Linked DNA regions of Homo sapiens: regions 1 and 3 are each reported to be linked to region 2. Evidence: microRNA targets listed by miRTarBase, many of them from high-throughput screens and not tested one by one. Region 2 holds a microRNA gene; each other region holds the end of a gene's coding sequence.

What was found. Region 2 holds the annotated microRNA hsa-miR-1306-3p (ACGUUGGCUCUGGUGGUG, at 2,617-2,634, shown strand). A microRNA usually pairs through its seed, bases 2 to 8, with sites in the 3' UTR of a target mRNA and lowers its output. Matches are read on the target gene's strand: a 7mer-m8 pairs with bases 2 to 8, a 7mer-A1 pairs with bases 2 to 7 and ends in A, and an 8mer does both.
Region 1: the mRNA of TOMM40 is a reported target of hsa-miR-1306-3p. The part of its 3' UTR that is shown has no 7-base or 8-base seed match.
Region 3: miRTarBase lists SEPTIN6 as a target of hsa-miR-1306-3p. The part of its 3' UTR that is shown has no 7-base or 8-base seed match.

The regions. Positions count from the first base shown.
Region 1 is chr19:44,902,891-44,907,053 of GRCh38, forward strand. It overlaps TOMM40 (translocase of outer mitochondrial membrane 40), which reads left to right. Exons shown (of 9, transcript NM_001128917.2): 9 at 140-799. The coding sequence ends at 279. APOE (apolipoprotein E) reads left to right here and starts at 2,906. Exons shown (of 4, transcript NM_000041.4): 1 at 2,906-2,951; 2 at 3,712-3,777. The coding sequence starts at 3,735. RefSeq lists enhancers at 2,223-3,025, 3,828-4,163.
Region 2 is chr22:20,083,496-20,087,495 of GRCh38, forward strand. MIR1306 (microRNA 1306) reads left to right here and starts at 2,563; the gene lies at 2,563-2,647. DGCR8 (DGCR8 microprocessor complex subunit) reads left to right here. Exons shown (of 14, transcript NM_022720.7): 2 at 2,192-3,188; 3 at 3,667-3,826. The coding sequence starts at 2,469. MIR3618 (microRNA 3618) reads left to right here and starts at 2,251; the gene lies at 2,251-2,338. RefSeq lists an enhancer at 1-287.
Region 3 is chrX:119,622,009-119,626,175 of GRCh38, reverse strand. SEPTIN6 (septin 6) reads left to right here. Exons shown (of 11, transcript NM_145799.4): 10 at 797-841. The coding sequence ends at 800. Among named protein-coding and RNA genes, the nearest start is that of NKRF, 18 kb to the right of the region's middle.

The DNA.
Region 1 (4,163 bases), not on the chromosome of region 2:
TGGGGTTTCAGGGTGGCAGGAGCAGTGTGGTTAAAGGTCTGGAAGCTGTCGGCATGTGGCTGGTATCCAAGGTGGCCAGGAACTCTGCATGGATATGGTGGGAAGCTGGCACGCCTCTCACCTCAGCTCTTCCCTGCAGGCTCTGTGGATAGCAACTGGATCGTGGGTGCCACGCTGGAGAAGAAGCTCCCACCCCTGCCCCTGACACTGGCCCTTGGGGCCTTCCTGAATCACCGCAAGAACAAGTTTCAGTGTGGCTTTGGCCTCACCATCGGCTGAGCCCTCCTGGCCCCCGCCTTCCACGCCCTTCCGATTCCACCTCCACCTCCACCTCCCCCTGCCACAGAGGGGAGACCTGAGCCCCCCTCCCTTCCCTCCCCCCTTGGGGGTCGGGGGGGACATTGGAAAGGAGGGACCCCGCCACCCCAGCAGCTGAGGAGGGGATTCTGGAACTGAATGGCGCTTCGGGATTCTGAGTAGCAGGGGCAGCATGCCCAGTGGGCCTGGGGTCCCGGGAGGGATTCCGGAATTGAGGGGCACGCAGGATTCTGAGCACCAGGGGCAGAGGCGGCCAGACAACCTCAGGGAGGAGTGTCCTGGCGTCCCCATCCTCCAAAGGGCCTGGGCCCGCCCCGAGGGGGCAGCGAGAGGAGCTTCCCCATCCCCGGTCAGTCCACCCTGCCCCGTCCACTTTCCCATCTCCTCGGTATAAATCATGTTTATAAGTTATGGAAGAACCGGGACATTTTACAGAAAAAAAACAAAAAACAACAAAAAATATACGTGGGAAAAAAAACGATGGGAGGCCTCCGTTTTCTCAAGTGTGTCTGGCCTGTTTTGAGCATTTCATCCGGAGTCTGGCCGCCCTGACCTTCCCCCAGCCGCCTGCAGGGGGCGCCAGAGGGCCGGAGCACGGAAAGCAGCGGATCCTTGATGCTGCCTTAAGTCCGGCTCAGAGGGGCGCAGCGTGGCCTGGGGTCGCTATCTTCCCATCCGGAACATCTGCCCTGCTGGGGGACACTACGGGCCTTCCCTTGCCTGAGGGTAGGGTCTCAAGGTCACTTGCCCCCAGCTTGACCTGGCCGGAGTGGCTATAGAGGACTTTGTCCCTGCAGACTGCAGCAGCAGAGATGACACTGTCTCTGAGTGCAGAGATGGGGGCAGGGAGCTGGGAGAGGGTTCAAGCTACTGGAACAGCTTCAGAACAACTAGGGTACTAGGAACTGCTGTGTCAGGGAGAAGGGGCTCAAGGACTCGCAGGCCTGGGAGGAGGGGCCTAGGCCAGCCATGGGAGTTGGGTCACCTGTGTCTGAGGACTTGGTGCTGTCTGGATTTTGCCAACCTAGGGCTGGGGTCAGCTGATGCCCACCACGACTCCCGAGCCTCCAGGAACTGAAACCCTGTCTGCCCCCAGGGTCTGGGGAAGGAGGCTGCTGAGTAGAACCAACCCCAGGTTACCAACCCCACCTCAGCCACCCCTTGCCAGCCAAAGCAAACAGGCCCGGCCCGGCACTGGGGGTTCCTTCTCGAACCAGGAGTTCAGCCTCCCCTGACCCGCAGAATCTTCTGATCCCACCCGCTCCAGGAGCCAGGAATGAGTCCCAGTCTCTCCCAGTTCTCACTGTGTGGTTTTGCCATTCGTCTTGCTGCTGAACCACGGGTTTCTCCTCTGAAACATCTGGGATTTATAACAGGGCTTAGGAAAGTGACAGCGTCTGAGCGTTCACTGTGGCCTGTCCATTGCTAGCCCTAACATAGGACCGCTGTGTGCCAGGGCTGTCCTCCATGCTCAATACACGTTAGCTTGTCACCAAACATACCCGTGCCGCTGCTTTCCCAGTCTGATGAGCAAAGGAACTTGATGCTCAGAGAGGACAAGTCATTTGCCCAAGGTCACACAGCTGGCAACTGGCAGAGCCAGGATTCACGCCCTGGCAATTTGACTCCAGAATCCTAACCTTAACCCAGAAGCACGGCTTCAAGCCCCTGGAAACCACAATACCTGTGGCAGCCAGGGGGAGGTGCTGGAATCTCATTTCACATGTGGGGAGGGGGCTCCCCTGTGCTCAAGGTCACAACCAAAGAGGAAGCTGTGATTAAAACCCAGGTCCCATTTGCAAAGCCTCGACTTTTAGCAGGTGCATCATACTGTTCCCACCCCTCCCATCCCACTTCTGTCCAGCCGCCTAGCCCCACTTTCTTTTTTTTCTTTTTTTGAGACAGTCTCCCTCTTGCTGAGGCTGGAGTGCAGTGGCGAGATCTCGGCTCACTGTAACCTCCGCCTCCCGGGTTCAAGCGATTCTCCTGCCTCAGCCTCCCAAGTAGCTAGGATTACAGGCGCCCGCCACCACGCCTGGCTAACTTTTGTATTTTTAGTAGAGATGGGGTTTCACCATGTTGGCCAGGCTGGTCTCAAACTCCTGACCTTAAGTGATTCGCCCACTGTGGCCTCCCAAAGTGCTGGGATTACAGGCGTGAGCTACCGCCCCCAGCCCCTCCCATCCCACTTCTGTCCAGCCCCCTAGCCCTACTTTCTTTCTGGGATCCAGGAGTCCAGATCCCCAGCCCCCTCTCCAGATTACATTCATCCAGGCACAGGAAAGGACAGGGTCAGGAAAGGAGGACTCTGGGCGGCAGCCTCCACATTCCCCTTCCACGCTTGGCCCCCAGAATGGAGGAGGGTGTCTGTATTACTGGGCGAGGTGTCCTCCCTTCCTGGGGACTGTGGGGGGTGGTCAAAAGACCTCTATGCCCCACCTCCTTCCTCCCTCTGCCCTGCTGTGCCTGGGGCAGGGGGAGAACAGCCCACCTCGTGACTGGGGGCTGGCCCAGCCCGCCCTATCCCTGGGGGAGGGGGCGGGACAGGGGGAGCCCTATAATTGGACAAGTCTGGGATCCTTGAGTCCTACTCAGCCCCAGCGGAGGTGAAGGACGTCCTTCCCCAGGAGCCGGTGAGAAGCGCAGTCGGGGGCACGGGGATGAGCTCAGGGGCCTCTAGAAAGAGCTGGGACCCTGGGAACCCCTGGCCTCCAGGTAGTCTCAGGAGAGCTACTCGGGGTCGGGCTTGGGGAGAGGAGGAGCGGGGGTGAGGCAAGCAGCAGGGGACTGGACCTGGGAAGGGCTGGGCAGCAGAGACGACCCGACCCGCTAGAAGGTGGGGTGGGGAGAGCAGCTGGACTGGGATGTAAGCCATAGCAGGACTCCACGAGTTGTCACTATCATTTATCGAGCACCTACTGGGTGTCCCCAGTGTCCTCAGATCTCCATAACTGGGGAGCCAGGGGCAGCGACACGGTAGCTAGCCGTCGATTGGAGAACTTTAAAATGAGGACTGAATTAGCTCATAAATGGAACACGGCGCTTAACTGTGAGGTTGGAGCTTAGAATGTGAAGGGAGAATGAGGAATGCGAGACTGGGACTGAGATGGAACCGGCGGTGGGGAGGGGGTGGGGGGATGGAATTTGAACCCCGGGAGAGGAAGATGGAATTTTCTATGGAGGCCGACCTGGGGATGGGGAGATAAGAGAAGACCAGGAGGGAGTTAAATAGGGAATGGGTTGGGGGCGGCTTGGTAAATGTGCTGGGATTAGGCTGTTGCAGATAATGCAACAAGGCTTGGAAGGCTAACCTGGGGTGAGGCCGGGTTGGGGCCGGGCTGGGGGTGGGAGGAGTCCTCACTGGCGGTTGATTGACAGTTTCTCCTTCCCCAGACTGGCCAATCACAGGCAGGAAGATGAAGGTTCTGTGGGCTGCGTTGCTGGTCACATTCCTGGCAGGTATGGGGGCGGGGCTTGCTCGGTTCCCCCCGCTCCTCCCCCTCTCATCCTCACCTCAACCTCCTGGCCCCATTCAGGCAGACCCTGGGCCCCCTCTTCTGAGGCTTCTGTGCTGCTTCCTGGCTCTGAACAGCGATTTGACGCTCTCTGGGCCTCGGTTTCCCCCATCCTTGAGATAGGAGTTAGAAGTTGTTTTGTTGTTGTTGTTTGTTGTTGTTGTTTTGTTTTTTTGAGATGAAGTCTCGCTCTGTCGCCCAGGCTGGAGTGCAGTGGCGGGATCTCGGCTCACTGCAAGCTCCGCCTCCCAGGTCCACGCCATTCTCCTGCCTCAGCCTCCCAAGTAGCTGGGACTACAGGCACATGCCACCACACCCGACTAACTTTTT
Region 2 (4,000 bases):
GCACCAGGCTTTCCTGCTGTGCATTTCTTCAGTGCCGCCGCTTGGCCCCATTAGCACCTTTGCTTGGAACGTCTACTCTAGCTGCTTCTTCGCCTTCTGTGGTAGCAGGCTTCCCCATTCCGTCCCACTGTTGGTCTCTAATCCCCTGCTCCTTGTGGCTTCTTCATGTAGCTTTTTGTGTCCCAGAATCATGGATTGACTCACCAGGGTCTCTATGGGACTGCCAGGTTCTGAGGTGTGTGGCCCTGGTCTTCCTTGTAATCTGTGGCACTGGGCGCATTGACCCCTCGGTCTGTTTTCTCTAATGGTCTTTCTTGGTTGCCAGGAGACTGACCTCACCCCACTTAGTGTTCCTCATGCCTGCCTGGTTGCTGCCCACAGCCTCTTGAGCGTCTTCAGCACTTTATAGTCAGTTGTTAGCTCTGTGCTGTGTTTCCTGGATCCTCAGCACCTTTGATGGACACATCTTTGGGAACATACGGTGTGAAATTCCCATTAGATTCAGAAATGTTAGGACATCTTAGAATCCAGGAAATGGGGTGACAGTGCAGTGGTCATTGACCTGCCAGTGTGTCCAGGCCCTGTGACCTTGTCTCTTGTCCATATAGTGCGTTCCTCGGAGTAGATGGCCAGTGGATAGTTGTTAAATGTATTGATTAAACCTAAACTAGTCTCTGGTTTTCATGTTGTGTCCCCTTCGAAGTACATCCACCATGCCTTGTCCCTTGTTAAATGTGTGATGTCTGCATCTCCTGTTCTTTCCGGGAATCTTGGGAGGATGTTAGGTCATGCAGTGCGGTTTGCATGTGTGCATCTTTACTGGTATGCACGCATGTGCATGCATGCGTGTTCCTGTGCACGTTGTGGGAGTGTGCATGTGCGTGTGTCTGCATGTGTTCCTTCTGCTCTGATGCAGGGTTTTCTGGCTGCCCCCTCAGACCCATCTTCCCTGCTTCATGTTGTCCCTTTCTTCATGCTTCCTCTGTAGTAAGGCTTCCTAGAGTTGCATCCTTAACCCTCATCTCTGGGTGGCCTTCCTCCTGTGGGTTTGGCGACTACCTCCTCAGTGCGTCCTGGCCTTCCGTATCTGGACCAGTCATGGCTCCAGAGTTGTGGCCTCGGCACCTTCAGAGCCTGCCTGGAGGTCCCCTCTGTTCTCCTCGCCAGGCTCCTGCCTGCATGCTGGAATTTGGGTGTCCTTCCTTGTCTTTAGTTCCCTCTTTTCTCTGCTATCCACCTCCGTTGGGTCAACAAGTGCGGTCAGTTCTGTGACACTGTTCTTGGCCCATTGCCAGGGCCTCTTTCACACCTTTGTCCTCTGGCCTGGAGGACTGTCCCCGTGCCTTGGATGCAGTTGCTTCTGCCTGGCACAGCTGTGGGTCTCCCCTCTCAAGTAGGAACCTACTTGTGGCATGAGAGTCGCTTCACCTTCAGTGGCTCCTTATTGTCCCCAGGGCGGAACGGGCTGCAGGTGGCACCCAGGCCTCTCTGTGCCTCGGCTCCAGCTGTCTCTTGTGGCTCCCCACCCCAAATCCTGGCAGGTCCCTTCCCCACAGCCACCCACCCCTCTCCTCCATCGGGAACAGAACTATGCTGCCACCTCTGGTGACCTCAGCACGCTGCATCACTGTCCCCGTCCACGTGCTACCCTGTGGGCCCAGGAGAGCCCTGGGGTCCCTGGGTAGCAGAGCGCCTGGCCATGCCTCTGAGGCCCCTAGTGCCGCAGAGTTGAGCTGAGGGTCTCGCGCTCGCCCTCTGACTGACCCAGCCCTTGCAGGTGAGTGGATTGCTGTGCTCTGGTGGCCTGAGGGAGGCCACGCGCCTTCTGTGTGTTCCAGAAAGGGTGCCTCCCACTGCATGCTTGCTTATCTGAGTTAGAAGAATGCTGTGGTGGAGTTTAGTGTAAATTTTTAAAATATTTTTTGAGCCTTATGATTATATAGTTTTTGTGTTTCTGAAGTAGGAATTAAAGTGGGCATTAACAAAATATTTAACTTTGGACTTAAGTTATAATTCAGGTTCTGAAGAATAAAAGTAAGGTTAGTTTGTTTTGATGCCTAAAAAGTCCTCTTAGGGAATATTATTTTGAAGCCCTTTACTATGCTGTTAATAGTGCTTGGCTTTTAACTTGGTACCAGGGAATTGGAAGGTTTCTGTCATTTTGTGACGATATTTTTAAATTTCTTTGCAGGTAGAAGAAGAAAGGTGCCACTCCGGCATGAAGACAGACTCGCTTAGTCGCCAGTCACTTAAGCTGAGTGCATTGTGATTTCCAATAATTGAGGCAGTGGTTCTAAAAGCTGTCTACATTAATGAAAAGAGCAATGTGGCCAGCTTGACTAAGCCGCCAGCGCACAGCGCGGCAGGACGCGCCCGGGTCTCAGCGGACTTGTGCATGTTAGCTGTGTAGATTTATGTGAGGGCTTGTAAAACTCTGGTCTTGTAAACTAGTCTTAAGCGCTTTTAATATGGAGACAGATGAGAGCCCCTCTCCGCTCCCGTGTGGGCCCGCAGGAGAAGCGGTGATGGAGAGCCGAGCTCGCCCCTTCCAAGCGCTGCCCCGTGAGCAGTCTCCACCACCTCCCCTGCAAACGTCCAGTGGTGCAGAGGTAATGGACGTTGGCTCTGGTGGTGATGGACAGTCCGAACTCCCTGCTGAGGACCCCTTCAACTTCTACGGAGCTTCTCTTCTCTCCAAAGGATCCTTCTCTAAGGGCCGCCTCCTCATAGACCCGAACTGTAGTGGCCACAGCCCGCGCACCGCCCGGCACGCACCTGCGGTCCGGAAGTTCTCCCCTGACCTTAAGTTGCTTAAGGATGTAAAGATTAGCGTGAGCTTTACCGAGAGCTGCAGGAGTAAGGACAGGAAGGTGCTGTACACAGGAGCAGAGCGCGACGTGCGGGCGGAGTGCGGTCTGCTCCTTAGCCCTGTCAGTGGGGACGTGCATGCTTGTCCCTTTGGCGGGAGTGTTGGTGACGGGGTAGGCATAGGGGGTGAGAGTGCTGATAAGAAGGATGAGGAGAATGAGCTGGATCAGGAAAAGAGAGTGGAGTATGCAGTGCTCGATGAGTTAGAAGATTTTACTGACAATTTGGAGCTAGATGAAGAAGGAGCAGGCGGGTTCACGGCTAAAGCAATCGTTCAGAGAGACAGAGTGGATGAAGAGGCCTTGAATTTCCCCTACGAGGTATGTTGGCAGCCCCTCCTCTAGAGGGCTCTTAGCAAAACCCAAAGAGAGATTTGGGAATTGCAGCATCTTTTGAAAGCAGGGAAATTAAAAAAAAAAAAAACAAAAACCAAAATCCCCTCTGAGGTGGAATAATGTTAATGTGGAGAAGAGAAAGATGTAAGGAGTCCAGATTTTTAAAGTTTCCTAATGAAAAGTTTGGCCCATGGGTAGGCCCTGCATCCCTGATCTAGCGCGTGGGGCAGCAGGTGCTGCTGAGTTACGCTCCTTGGCAGTGTGTGCCCCTGGACCAGGTGTGTTGGTGTCAGCTGGTAGCTTCATCCTGTTTGTTTTTCAGATGATCATGCACCCTAAGGGCACATCTAGGCCCCCTGAGAGCACCTCCTTTCTGTGTCTGTTCTCAGGAATGCTGTTGAGCTCTCCTGTTGCAGGAGCATGAGCGCCAGGGGCTCTGGTGTCTGAACAGCGTGTTTTGCAGGATGACTTTGACAACGATGTGGATGCTCTGCTGGAAGAAGGCCTTTGTGCCCCCAAAAAGAGGCGAACAGAGGAAAAATATGGCGGAGACAGCGACCATCCGTCCGATGGAGAGACAAGTGTGCAGCCGATGATGACCAAGATTAAAACAGTGCTCAAAAGTACGTGTGTGGGTCAGAAGCAGTGGGTGTTCCAGGGCAGTGGAGGGGTGGTTGCTTCCTTAGCAGAAATGCTTTGAGAGAGCTCTGGTGCCAGGTAGTGGGCTGGGTGGAGGCATGTTTGAGGACAGGACAGAAATATCTGAGGAGGGAAACACAGGATGGGAGGACGTCCTG
Region 3 (4,167 bases), not on the chromosome of region 2:
AATTCTGAAATGGGTGAAAACCCTGCTGGCATGTGGCACCTTATATTAGCAATAAGGGCCTAACAGAATGACCTGTCTTCTTCTGTACTTCCAGATGCAGAAGTGGCCCTGAATCTTGGCTTCTTATGTAATTTCATGAGCAATTTGTTAACTTCTGGAAGAGCCACCGTTAGACCTGTGCTACCCTCCTCCCATAGTCACGGTAGTGAGTTTTGAGGGCAGAAATGGTGGTAGTAGTATTTCTTCTTGAGAGATGGTGGTTGGATCTAAGAGTCACATATTCAGAATTTCCTTTAGCTGCCCCTAAAGAGATTAAGAAAGTACTGGCCAGCCGTGGTGGCTCATGCTTGTAATCCCAATACTTTGGGAGGCCAAGGCGAAGGATTGCTTGAGTCCAGGAGTTTGAGATCAGCCTGGGCAACATAGTGAGACCTTTGTCTCTACAAAAAAAATAAATAAATAAACATTAGCTGGGCCTGGTGGCACTTGCCTATAATCCCAGCTACTCAGGAGACTGAGGTGGGAGAACTGCTTGAACCCGGGAGGTTGAGGCTGCAGTGAGCCATGATTGCGCCACTGCACTCCAGTCTGGGCAACAGAGAGAGACCCTGACTCAAAAAAAAAAAAAAAAGAGTATCAGTGTTTCAGGGGTTCCTACCAGTCCACCCTTCCCACTTCCCCTTCCTGCTACTCCTAATCACCTTTGACCTCTAACCCTTCATTGTTTGTGTCAAGTCATAATATTTGATTTCCCCTCATGCTCACTCCATCTTCATCAGCTCTTACTGTTTTACAGTTAACTCTGCTGTTTGCTGCATGCTGCATGAGACCCAGGGTCCTGGTAAGCTTGATTAACTCTAAATAGAACTGGCAGTGGCTTCTAGAACATATCTCCCCCAATCCCGCACCCCCAACACAAGCATCTAATCGTAGAAGAAGCTGCTTCATTGGTCTAGCTGGTTTTCTCTCGTGACTTATAATATGCAGAAATAGTCTGGTGTGGTTTCAGGTGTACATGTGGAATGCCTGCCTGCCTGCCTGATTAAAGTGAGGGGTCGTTTTCAGACTTTTGCTGCTAGAACAGCTGGGTAACACAGGTGGATCCTGTGATCAGTATTTGAGGTTTCAGTGTGGGAAGTTTTTTTCTTAAAGAGCCATAATCGGGCCGGACGCAGTGGCTCACAGACCTGTAATCCCAGCACTTTGGTAGGCCGAGGAGGGCAGATCACCTGAGGTCAGAAGATTGAGACCATCCTGGCTAACACGGTGAAGCTCCATCTCTACTAAAAATACAAAAAATTAGCCGGACATGGTGGCACAGGCCTGTAATCCCAGCTACTCTGGAGGCTGACACAGGAGAATCGCTTGAACCTGGGAGGCGGAGGTTGCAGTGAGCCGAGATTGCACCATTGTACTCTAGCCTGGGCAACAAGAGCGAAACTCCATCTCAAAAACAAAAGGAGCTATAACCATTATTTTCAAAATTAATGAAACCGTGGTGATGAGAGAAACTGGGTTTCACAAGCTCCGTCCTGCAATGTCACAGTCAGCATCAACCCTCTCCCATCCCCCTGCATCAGGTTTGAGAATGTCCAGAGTCAATGGAAACTCACTTCTCTGTTTCCCGCTGGTGGCAGTTTCATATCTGAGGGGTTCAAGTCCTCAAATTTCCTTTGACTGTACCCCTCAAAACCATAATAAGGCTGAGAGCAGTGGCTCACGCCTGTAATCTTAGCACTTTGGGAGGCCGAGGCGGGCGGATCACCTGAGGTCGGGAGTTCGAGACCAGCCTGACCAACATGGAGAAATCCTGTCTCTACTAAAAATACAAAATTAGCCGGGCGTGGTGGTGCATGCCTGTAATCCCAGCTACTCGGGAGGCTGAGGCAGGAGAATTGCTTGAACCTGGGAGGCGGAGGTTGCAGTGAGCCGAGATCGCACCTTTGCACTCCAGCCTGGGCAATAAGAGCGAAACTCCGTCTCAAAAAAACAAACAAACAAACAAACAAAAAAAAAAACAAAAAAAAAAAACCCATAATAAAAGCGGAGGAAAATGAAGAGATCTTAGAAATTATAGAGAATTCCTTACATTTAATCCTACAAGTACTGGCTTCATGAAAACCTCTTATAAGGAGATCAGCAGGTAAGGATTCCTGAGTGCTAGATGTTGTGTTAATAGAAGTTTATAAAGTTTCACATAGTTTATAGGGAGACTGAAAGCAGGGATTAAGGACCTTCTATCTCCTCTACTAGACTCAGGTAGTGGATGGAAAGGAAATACAAACATTTTTAATTTAACATAATTAGGGTTTTTTTTGTTTGTTTGTTTCTTTTTTTGAGACGGAGTCTCACTCTGTCACCGAGGCTGGAGTGCAGTGGCACAACCTCAGCTCCCTGCAACCTCCGCCTCCTGGGTTCAAGCAATTCTCATGCCTCAGCCTCCCAAGTAGCTGGGATTATAGGCATGTGCCACCATTCCTGGCTAATTTTTGTATTTTTAGCAGAGACCGGGTTTCACCACGTTGGCCCAGGCTGGTCTCAAACTCCTGACCTCAGGTGATCTGCCTACCTTGGCCTCCCAAAGTGCTGAGATTACAGGCGTGAGCCACCGCGCCCGATGAAGGGTTATTATTATTTTTTTTAAACTTTACCGTGGAAACTTTCAAACATGAGCAAAATAAGAGGATAATACAGTTCAGCCCCCAGGCAACCATAAACATATGCCTAATCTTGTTTCATCAATTACTACAGACCTGCTGAATTATTATAAAGCAAAACTATATCATTTTATCTGTAAATACTTTAGTATATATTTCCAAGAGATAATGATTCTTTAAAAAAACATAACCACAACCCCACCATTATCACACCTACAAAATGAACAATAATTCATTAACATGAAATGTCTAGTCAGTGTTTGAAACATCCCGGTTGTCTCATAAATGCCCTTTTACATTTGGTTTGTTTGGATCAGGGAATATAAAATATAGAGAAGACTTTTCCCCACTCACCCATGTAGTTTATGATTTAAATGGAGAGCCTGCTGTTAGTCACCAAACTGATTGCCGCAGCTATTGCACTGGGGACTCGGGGCAGCTGGCAAAACATCCTGCTTGGAAGCAAATCCTGAAGAGGAAGTCCATAGAGGTTTCTGCAACATAAGGCCCATGAAACCGGGCCAAAGGAAACAATCTTAAAAGAACAGTGACTTGATTTACTGTCTGGCTTAACAGCAAGTCTTGGAGCCCCTGCTAGTTGACTGGAATTAAACAGCAGATTTCCATTTAGGAAGACAGTCAGTTCCTAGAATGCCTGTCCATTCTTTGCACTGTATGTAGTTCCAGTGCGTAGTGAAGTGTCTGACATGTAATAGGAACTCAGTTCATGTGTTATGTTCTTTGTTCTCCCATTTTTAATGAGGTGAGCAGGAAATATGTATTCTAGTTAATGAGATTTCAGTTAATTCAGGTTTCACTGCACGTGGCTTGACACAGTTGCTTACAGGTTTCCCCAAGTAAATCATTGTTAGTGGCCATTCCTAAAATGAATTCTGGCAAAACTATAATTAAAGCTACACTTTACAAGTGAGAGGCAATTGGTAAACAGCTGGAACAGCCAACCCCAACCCCAAGTAGGTTGGCTCTTCCTGGCAGGATTCTCCCTGGCAGACCACGAAAGCAATTTCAGACCAACGAGTCAGGGGAGGCTTTGGCTCCCCAGGATCTGAAAGCAGCAAAGGCAACCCGCCCCCTCCTCAAAGCCCTCATTCAAGGGGTGGATCACGAAGGCCACCTAGAATGCAGGCAGAGTGAGGCTTACTGTGCCTCCACATTTTGAAATTGCTTGAGGCACTACTTATAGCTCTCTGCATTTGTAAAAGCGATTCCTTTGTGACCCCCTACATCGTTGCAGATACTCTACCTCAATCATTATTGGTCCTTAGGAGTGCACAGTATATGGATAGTATACACACATCAAAATACGTCAGCCTTCCCATGAAACCTAGAACATAGGCCATTGCAGTGTTTTTTAGATTACTCTTCCCCTAGGAAGTAGACAAAGAATAAAAATAAGATATGAGCATTTGTATAGCTTTTATTACTTTCCAAAGTGTTTTTTTTTGTTGTTGTTGTTTTGTTTTTGTTTTTGTCTTTTGTATAGTATCTC